2 separate regions of the Homo sapiens genome follow, and region 1 is reported to be linked to region 2. Evidence: microRNA targets listed by miRTarBase, many of them from high-throughput screens and not tested one by one. Region 2 holds a microRNA gene; the other region holds the end of a gene's coding sequence.

Region 1 (4,000 bases), not on the chromosome of region 2:
TACCTGCCCATGGCTTCACAGGTCCAGCCAGCCCAGCAAGCAGAAGTGCTGGTGTCTTTAACCCAGGTTTCTTAAAGACTGGCTTCAATAGAACCAACTGTAGTGACTTGGGGCAGAGGAAGGGGAGGATGAAGGTCTTCTAGTGCATCTCTGCCCTCTCCGTGTTGGCAAGGTTGGCATGAATGGGCCATTATTCAACTGGGGGTGGGATGTCTCCATTTCTGGACTGTGCTCAAATTCACACCTTGTATGACATGTGGGCAGAGGAGCTGGCCTGGAGAGGCCTCTAATTCTGCCTCTACGCTTTTGCTGGGTCTGAGGACATGGGAGGGAGGAGCCATAAAATGCTGGAGAACAATTTTAAAAAACACTTATGAAAAAATGCTGGACACTTGACTCACTGCCAGAACAAAGAAGAGCCAATTCAACATCCCAACTTTACGGGCACGTAAGATTCACAAGCTGAACCAAGAGATTTAGGAAGAAAAAAAAAAACATGGTAATTATAAGGGGTCTGTGAATAAGTTAAACTAAAAGCTGCTTTCACAATCTACAAATTAGGCCTCCAAATCAAAATCATTTATATTAACCAAAAGGTTATCTAATTTTGCCCATATTGGTGTCAAATCTCATCCCCACTCCCTGCCAAAAAAGAGCAACCTAGTTCAGCTGTCGGATTTTTATATAACACTCTCTTTATGTGAGCTAGACTCCAGAGTCCTCACACTTCACAGAAATTCTTTCTTAAAACTGGCACTGCAGCCTTTCATTTACAATATCCCTTTTTAAGTGCAAAGTCGAGGGCTGTGAAAAGAACCACGGTGGGGGGTCTGGGTTACTCAGGTCTTATCCAGTGAAAAATTAGTTCTCTGAATCTTTGCAAAACATCTCCTTCACTGGTGCAATCTAAGAAAGGGAAATGGGAAACTTGTTTACATGATGAAAAATATAATTAAGAGATTGACTCTTTATGGCTTATGGCCGCTCTGACAGACTCGTATTTCTCAAAACTTACATTCAGAAGACACTGTCTGCCACTATTTGAAATCTTTAGAGCTAATCATAAGTTAATGACTAGTCTAAGAGGCCACTTGGTGGGGAAAACAAATCCACTGATATTCTGGTCTTAATCCCTGAACAGAAAATGTGCACACATCCATTAACTATTTGGAACCAATCTGGTGCTATACAACTCTTCTGTGTCCTCTTGACCCCATTTTGTCCTCCTAAAGGGACAACTGTTAGTTCCTTTAACCCACTCAAGCAAGGAGTGGAGGGCAGAGGTTTATCTAAAAGAGCAGTGATGTTGGTTCTTGGAGCCCCCTTAAAAGGGCCATCTGAGCTCTCTGCCTAACGTCCCATTGTCTACATAGATTCCGTTTTGGAAGGATGGTTTCCCAGAGAAAGAGTCCTGCTGTTTGGAGGTCGAGAGAGAGTGACGTCAAGCAAGCGTAGTAAGGGAGAAAATAAAATCCTCAAAGCACTAAGGACAGGGGCTAGAAGTTTCCTTTATCTTCTCCCTCCTCATTTAGAAGAGCACGTTTCCTACTCTACGTCTGGGAGCCTTGAAAACCCAGTCTGGTTCAGTTGCAGCAGGTACATGGGTTGGCTCATTCTCTCACTTCTGCCCCTAAATTTGAAACCTTTCCTTCCTCATTGCCCAAATGCTACTTGAGTAAATCTTATCTTTTTGCCTTCTTTGGGCCCTATAGGCTGCCTATGCCTGATAATGACCTGACAGTTTAAAAGAGAGGGATGGGTCAGTGGAGGCCCATGGTTACCAGACACCAGCCAGGCCCAACAGGATCTGGGCTGCAGACAGTGGAGCAGAGAGAAGCAGAAGCAGAACCTACTAGCAACCCTCCTCCTGCACAGCTCAGACAGTCTCCGCCCTGGCTAATGGGAGGGACAACAAGAACCCTCCAGACAACAGGGCTGCCAGGACTACGGGGGCCCGATCCAGCTTCCACTCACAGTGAGAAGATGAACTTGGCCGCTTTCCAGGCTGGAACCGTCTCCAGCATAGCAGAGAGAGGGGAATCACTCACAGGGAGCCCCAAATGGGCCTAGACAGACAAGGCAGGGACCGACTTATGAGGTATGACGACAAATGTTAATAACATCAAATCCTGTACCTGATATGGAATGGAAGCCAGGGTGTGGGCTTAATCCCTCTAAGTACAGGCTCCAATAACAATGCAGATGACGTGTGTGGGGGTGGGTGGTGGGGGGAGAGAGAGAAGGAGAGACAGAGAGAGAGAGGGAGAGAGAGAAGCCAAAACCAAAGGCATTTCAGCTGCTAATAAAAATAAAATACAAACTCTATGCACATTTCCTACACAAAATCTTTCCCAAGCTCGGAAAAAACACTTGAGGGTTTTCTACATTACACAATAAAAAGGCAATTTCCACTTCTTATTTATATGAAAGAGGAAAGATTTTTTTAAACTACAAAAGTTACTTTTAACCATAAAAAAAAAACAAAAAAACTAAAAGTAGGTTGGGGATTAGGTTGTATCTCTTTGGGCGAGCTGCAAAGTAGCCAAACCTGACTACCAAAGGTAAGAATGTGGATACACAAATGTCACCTACCCCACCCTGCTTTGTTGAGGTAGGGGACGAGGAGGACAAAGTGGAAGTGTGGAGGGAGGAGGGGGCCAGGCAGGTGTGGAAAGCCAGCAAGGTTGTCTGAAATGTCTGTTGTCAGAACAGGGCTTCCCCTTCTCTGTCATGAAAACAGGATAGAAAAAGCTTGTGGCCAGGGAGCCCGGGGCCTGAGTGAGGCATTGTGTCATCTCTCGCTCTGAGCTCATCCTAGAGGCAGACACATACATGCTCAAAGGAACTTCTTTTTCAATGGTAATTATTCCAGTTAAAAGAAAAAACAAAGGAAAGGAAACAAAACATTGTCTGGAAAGACACGGGATCCCAGAGCCTAGGGTGCCCTCCTAGCTCTGAAGGCTCGCAGAAAACTTGGCTAGCTTGAAAGGAGGCATCGATCTCTTCAGTGTGGTTGCTAGCAGGAAGCCTCGGCAAGCTAATAAATACTATTTACAACTGGGGAGGAGAAGCTGGGGAGGCAGAACTATGGATGTGTGGGGAACCAGGTTGTGGGAGGTCCTAAAAGCGACAAGATGGGGCAGGTTTGCCTGGAGTAGAAAAGCCTGATCCCCTCAGGCATTGCACTTGCGGCCTGAGAATATGAACGAGAGCCCTCGCCTGCCAGTGCTGCTGCAGGAGACGAGACGATCCAGCGAGGGCTCCCAGGGGGCAGAGTGGGCGGAGGGCTGCTGTCGGGGGTGTTCACACCAGAGACCCCAGTGCGAGCAACGGAGGACACGGGTCAGTGCTTTGCCAAATACCAACAGGCATTATGGCATTTTTGTGGCCAGAGTCTGGGGTCTTGACTGAACAAGAGCCATCTCGTCTCCAAAGCGGGGGGTTACACCTCACAGGTGCACATTAGGCAATATCTTTTTGGCACTATTGGTGGAAACAAGCCTGCTTGTCCCACCTCCAACCCCTAAAATAATTTCCTATGGCAGTAAGAGAAAGGAAGGGAGGGATGCAGGCTCCCTTCTGCACAGGAGGGGCATGGACCAGGGGGAGATGCTCTCTCACTGCAGGGAAGTCCCAGGCTGGTCTCCAATCTGAAGCCACTAATGCTTGCCCATGTCTCCATGAAGATCCAGTGGCAAAGAGGAAAAGCTGATGACAAAGGTGGTTTGGGGATGTAAAAGTAGAGTTAAGGGAAAGGGAGGGGGTGCAGGCAGCCTCTTTAGAAAGTGGTGTTCACTCTTCTGTCGAGTTCTACAACTTTTAGTGTTTCATTCCCCTCCAGTTTGGCGCTGACCCTGTGAAGGCATTAAAAGGAAAACGAAGTATTAGTCACCAGCTGTTAGCTACAATTCTCATGCTTTGTAGCGTGATGCAATCATTCAGGGGTTGCAACTTGGTGAGACGGCCTGGGCATGTTTCTTGTCCTTTTCTCTCCTAGTAG
Region 2 (4,000 bases):
GTTTCCTTCTAACGTTGGGCTTTTTTCTAATCCTGTCTCTCACCTGGCTCCTCAGATGATGGGATTAGTCCAGAAAGAGCTGCCCAGGTCATGGGCCCTCCGGATCGGTGTCAGCATGCAGCGCATATCATCAGCGAGCTGATTCTTACAGCCCAGGTGGGTCCAGCTCTGCAGAGTGTGAGTGTTTGGGCTGCAGAAGTGGAAAGTGCTACCCGGGGCTCTCGGTGCAGCACCATAGAGCTGTCACCCTGAGGCGTCTCAAGTCACATTATGGGAAACCAGCAGTTTCTCTACATCAGCCTCTTTCCTGCCTTCTTGGTATTTTTTTCTGCTCATTAATTATTCTGCCTTTATTTACCTCACCATCTAGATTGCCTTTACACAGTAAGTTTCTGGCTATTTAAACCATGTGGGGAAATACCATGGAGATTGGTCGCCAAGTTTCAAATAATCAAGTGTATTTAATGTTAATCTGTGTTAGTGAAATCCAGTCTTAGTGGTAGAAGACACTTCAGGGTCCTCCAAAGTCCTAAAGCTGCCTTCATGCACTTGATTTCATGCACATCTTTGGACTGTGAGCCAGCCTGTGTGACAGTGCTAGGAACCCCTATAACTGATGGTAGGACTGAGGATACATTTGAGAATGACCAGAACGGAAGAATAAAGCAAGAGATTGGAAATTATAGTCCCAGCTCTGCCATCAGTCATGTGACCTTGGAGCTGCCTTTGAACCTCTGGGTCTGGTGTTCCCAGCAGCAGACTCAGGGTGCTTTGCACCAGGCAGTGCTCTCTATGTGATCCCCTAAGAGCCATCTGGTGGTTCTTACTCAAATTACAAATGTGTAGGCCCCCACCCCAGATCTACTGAATCAGCATTTCCAAGGGAGGGTCTTGGGTCTTCACTAGAGACCCAGGCAATTCTTAAGATTAGACAAGTTTATAAAACGGCCACTAAATCAAGCTCGTTCAGCCTGTGGGCTGCACGCAGCCCAGGAACAGCATTGAATGCAGCCCAACACAAATTCATAAACTTTCTTAAAATGTTACAAGATTTTGTGTGTGTGTGTGTGTGTGTGTGTGTGTGTGTGTGTGTGTGTTTTTAAGCTCATCAGCTATCATTAATGTTAGTGTATTTTATGGGTGGCCCAAGACAGTTCTTCCAGTGTGGCCCAGGGAAGCCAAAAGATTGAACACCCCTGCTCTAAATGATCTCTAACATCCTTTTTTTGTAGCAAGAGTTTATGAACCTTGGCCAGGCACGGTGGCTCACTCTTGTACCCAGCATTTTGGGAGGCCGAGGCAAGCGGATCACCTGAGGTCAGGAGTTCGAGACCAGCCTGACCAACATGGTGAAACCCTGTCTCTGCTGAAAATACAAAATTAGCTGGACGTGGTGGCTCACGCCTGTAATCCTAGCACTTTGGGATGCCAAGGCAGGTGGATCACCTGAGGTCAGGAGTTCAAGACCAACATGGTGAGACCCGTCCCTACTAAAAATACAAAATTAGCCGGGCGTGGTGGCGCATGCCTATAGTTTCAGCTACTCAGGAGGCTGAGGCAGGAGAATTGCTTAAACCCAGGAAGCGGAGGTTGCAGTGAGCCAGGATCCTGCCATTGCATTCCCGCCTGGGCAACAAGAGCAAAACTCTGTCTCAAAAAAAGTTTATGAACCTTGCACTGCAGAGGCTGCGAGATGTTTGGGAGAAAACCTTTTCTTCGAGATCTGTGGCATACCCAGAAAGTTGACTGTGCGCTCCTGTGCGTGTGTGAACATCCATTCTAAAATTGCCTTGTTTACTTGGCAGTTGTCTCATAAGAGCAGAGTGCGGGGGAAAAGCACTCCAATTGTCTCAGCTTTCTGCTGGTTTAGATTCTGGGTAAACGTTCACTTTACTCTTAATCAACATGAGCAGGTTTTGCCCAACATTTCTTCATGTGTTGAAAAGTCTGTGCAGCTTCTCCCTTCCATGAAATAGCTCTTAGCTTGACCAGGTTCACCCTCCACATTTAAGAGAGTTTAAATACTGCAGCTCCAAAATGACTCCGCGGACAGCGGCTGGAATGAGACTTGCTGCTGTCTCAATGAAAGGGCTCTTCCTCTGTCCGCTGTTAGATTTAGGTTTTTCTCTCTGCTGGGTGAACAGTGGGAGAATGCCTCAGAGACTTCTCCAGCCCCACATGGGGAGGAGGCCTTGGCAGGTTCCCTCTGTTCCTCCCTTCTGAAGTATCCCTGAATGGTCACTCTTGAACCTGTTACTGCTGCTGCTGCTTGGGGGCACAACAGCCAAGAAGTTTTCTAAAACTGAGTAAAATCCGTTTATCCTTCTTGCTGACTGGAGTGCCAGGTGTTGTGACTCATAGCAGTGCCTGGTTGGGGAGGGTCAGCAGGCTGTGCATATCTGACTTCCCATAGGCCCAGTATGTGTCCGCCGCAGGAAAGAGGGGCCTCAGCTGCAAGGGAGAAAGCAGTTCTTGATGCCTGTAGATCGGGGCCCAGTGAGGAAAGCTCCAGGGAGAAAGGCCGCTGGGCTTCAGCCTTGGAGTTTGTGTCTGCCTATTTCTGTTGGATACATTTGAGCTGTTTATGTAACCACGTGTGTTCGTCTGCACAGGTCCTCCCCAGATACACCTGTGATCGGTGTTAATTCTGGCTTGAAAGAGCCCTTCAGAATGGGAAGTGTGGAAAGGTGCTAGGTTCTGATGGGTGGCATTGATTACATCCTGTCACTTAACCTCCTCCCTGGAAAAGAGAGGAGCAGTGGTGCTGTGGCAGTGGCAGAGGTCGCTACAGCCCTGTGATCTTTCCAGGAAAGAGACGGCTTTGGAGGCCTGGCAGCAGCCAGAGGAAGAGGTCGTGGCCGTGGCGACTGGAGCGTGGGAGCCCCTGGTGGCGTCCAGGAGATAACATACACGGTGCCAGCCGATAAGTGTGGCCTCGTCATAGGCAAAGGTAAGAGGCAGCTGGGGTTTCACATCCCCCCTCAGCTGTTTGGCTTGAGGGAAGGCAGGTCACGGGACCTCCAGAACCTTTGGTGAGGTCCCTTTGCTGCTGCAGGCTGGGGCTGCCCGGTCTGGAGGCAGTAGCCACCTTCTGCCGAAACCCTGCTTGGCATGGTTCTCTGAGGCTGCTGACGGGCCTGTTGTGAGGAGCAAAGTGTATTATTTCTGGTGAGTATGAAGAGACAGCAGTAAAACTCCCTGCCTGTTGAGGGCAGCTTAGCTTGGTGAAAAGATACCTTGCGCAAGATGGGGGGCATTTGTCAATCGACTGATTGGTAATTAACTCACCTCCAAGGAACTTAGAGGGACGGTTGAGACAGTATCCTCAGTGAAAATTCCTTCTCGACAGTGTGTCACTTGTTTCCCTTACCAGGTTTGAGTATTTGGTCTTGATCCGCGTAACATGTGAAAATGGTTTTTATCCTTTCTGCATATTTACCGTGAGTCACGGACTCTCTGTGGAGGGAAATAAACATTGATGTGTTAGTTTTTTCTGGGCATTTTGGAGAACATTAGGAAGAAACCCTCATTCATGGCTACTGTAGCTCCTTCCTGTCCTTCACTGAGAACCAGGAGAGAGCAGCCACATTTCTCAGCCATTGGCAGCAGTTCATCTTGGCTAGCCCTGGGACCCAGAAAGGCTACTGAGACCAGGGCCGAGGCTGTGGGGCCTTCCCAGTGTAGCAGCAGGGCTCGGCTTCCGTGGGGCTCTGAGCCAGGCCTCGCTGCCAGCGGGGGACTCCCGTTGTCACTGGGTTTCGTATTTGCCTTCATTAGGTATTTGACAGCATGTGGAGAAAACAGTCGTCTCTCCAGAGTTTCTCAAATTTCTTTGATCACCAAATACCCCTTAGCTGCTTGAGGGGCGCTCGTATTGGATAGGCAGGACTTGGGGATGCTTCACCAGCAGAGACCTCCAGAGCTGGGCAGGTGGGAGCCCCCCGACACTCACCTCCCAGGAGCTGCCCTCGTCCCTGCTCACAGACACTGTGGGCTTATG

The links. Region 2 holds the annotated microRNA hsa-miR-6856-5p (AAGAGAGGAGCAGUGGUGCUGUGG, at 2,747-2,770, shown strand). A microRNA usually pairs through its seed, bases 2 to 8, with sites in the 3' UTR of a target mRNA and lowers its output. Matches are read on the target gene's strand: a 7mer-m8 pairs with bases 2 to 8, a 7mer-A1 pairs with bases 2 to 7 and ends in A, and an 8mer does both.
Region 1: miRTarBase lists CREB3L2 as a target of hsa-miR-6856-5p. Seed matches in the 3' UTR shown: 7mer-m8 at 2,257-2,263, 7mer-m8 at 2,030-2,036 and 7mer-m8 at 1,748-1,754.

Annotation. Positions count from the first base shown.
Region 1 is chr7:137,876,698-137,880,697 of GRCh38, forward strand. It overlaps CREB3L2 (cAMP responsive element binding protein 3 like 2), which reads right to left. Exons shown (of 12, transcript NM_194071.4): 12 at 1-3,854. The coding sequence ends at 3,779. Among named protein-coding and RNA genes, the nearest start is that of DGKI, 32 kb to the left of the region's middle. RefSeq lists enhancers at 1,936-2,667, 2,668-3,401 and a silencer at 2,626-2,920.
Region 2 is chr9:130,623,556-130,627,555 of GRCh38, forward strand. It overlaps MIR6856 (microRNA 6856), which reads left to right and starts at 2,742; the gene lies at 2,742-2,808. It overlaps FUBP3 (far upstream element binding protein 3), which reads left to right. Exons shown (of 19, transcript NM_003934.2): 11 at 56-156; 12 at 2,809-2,950.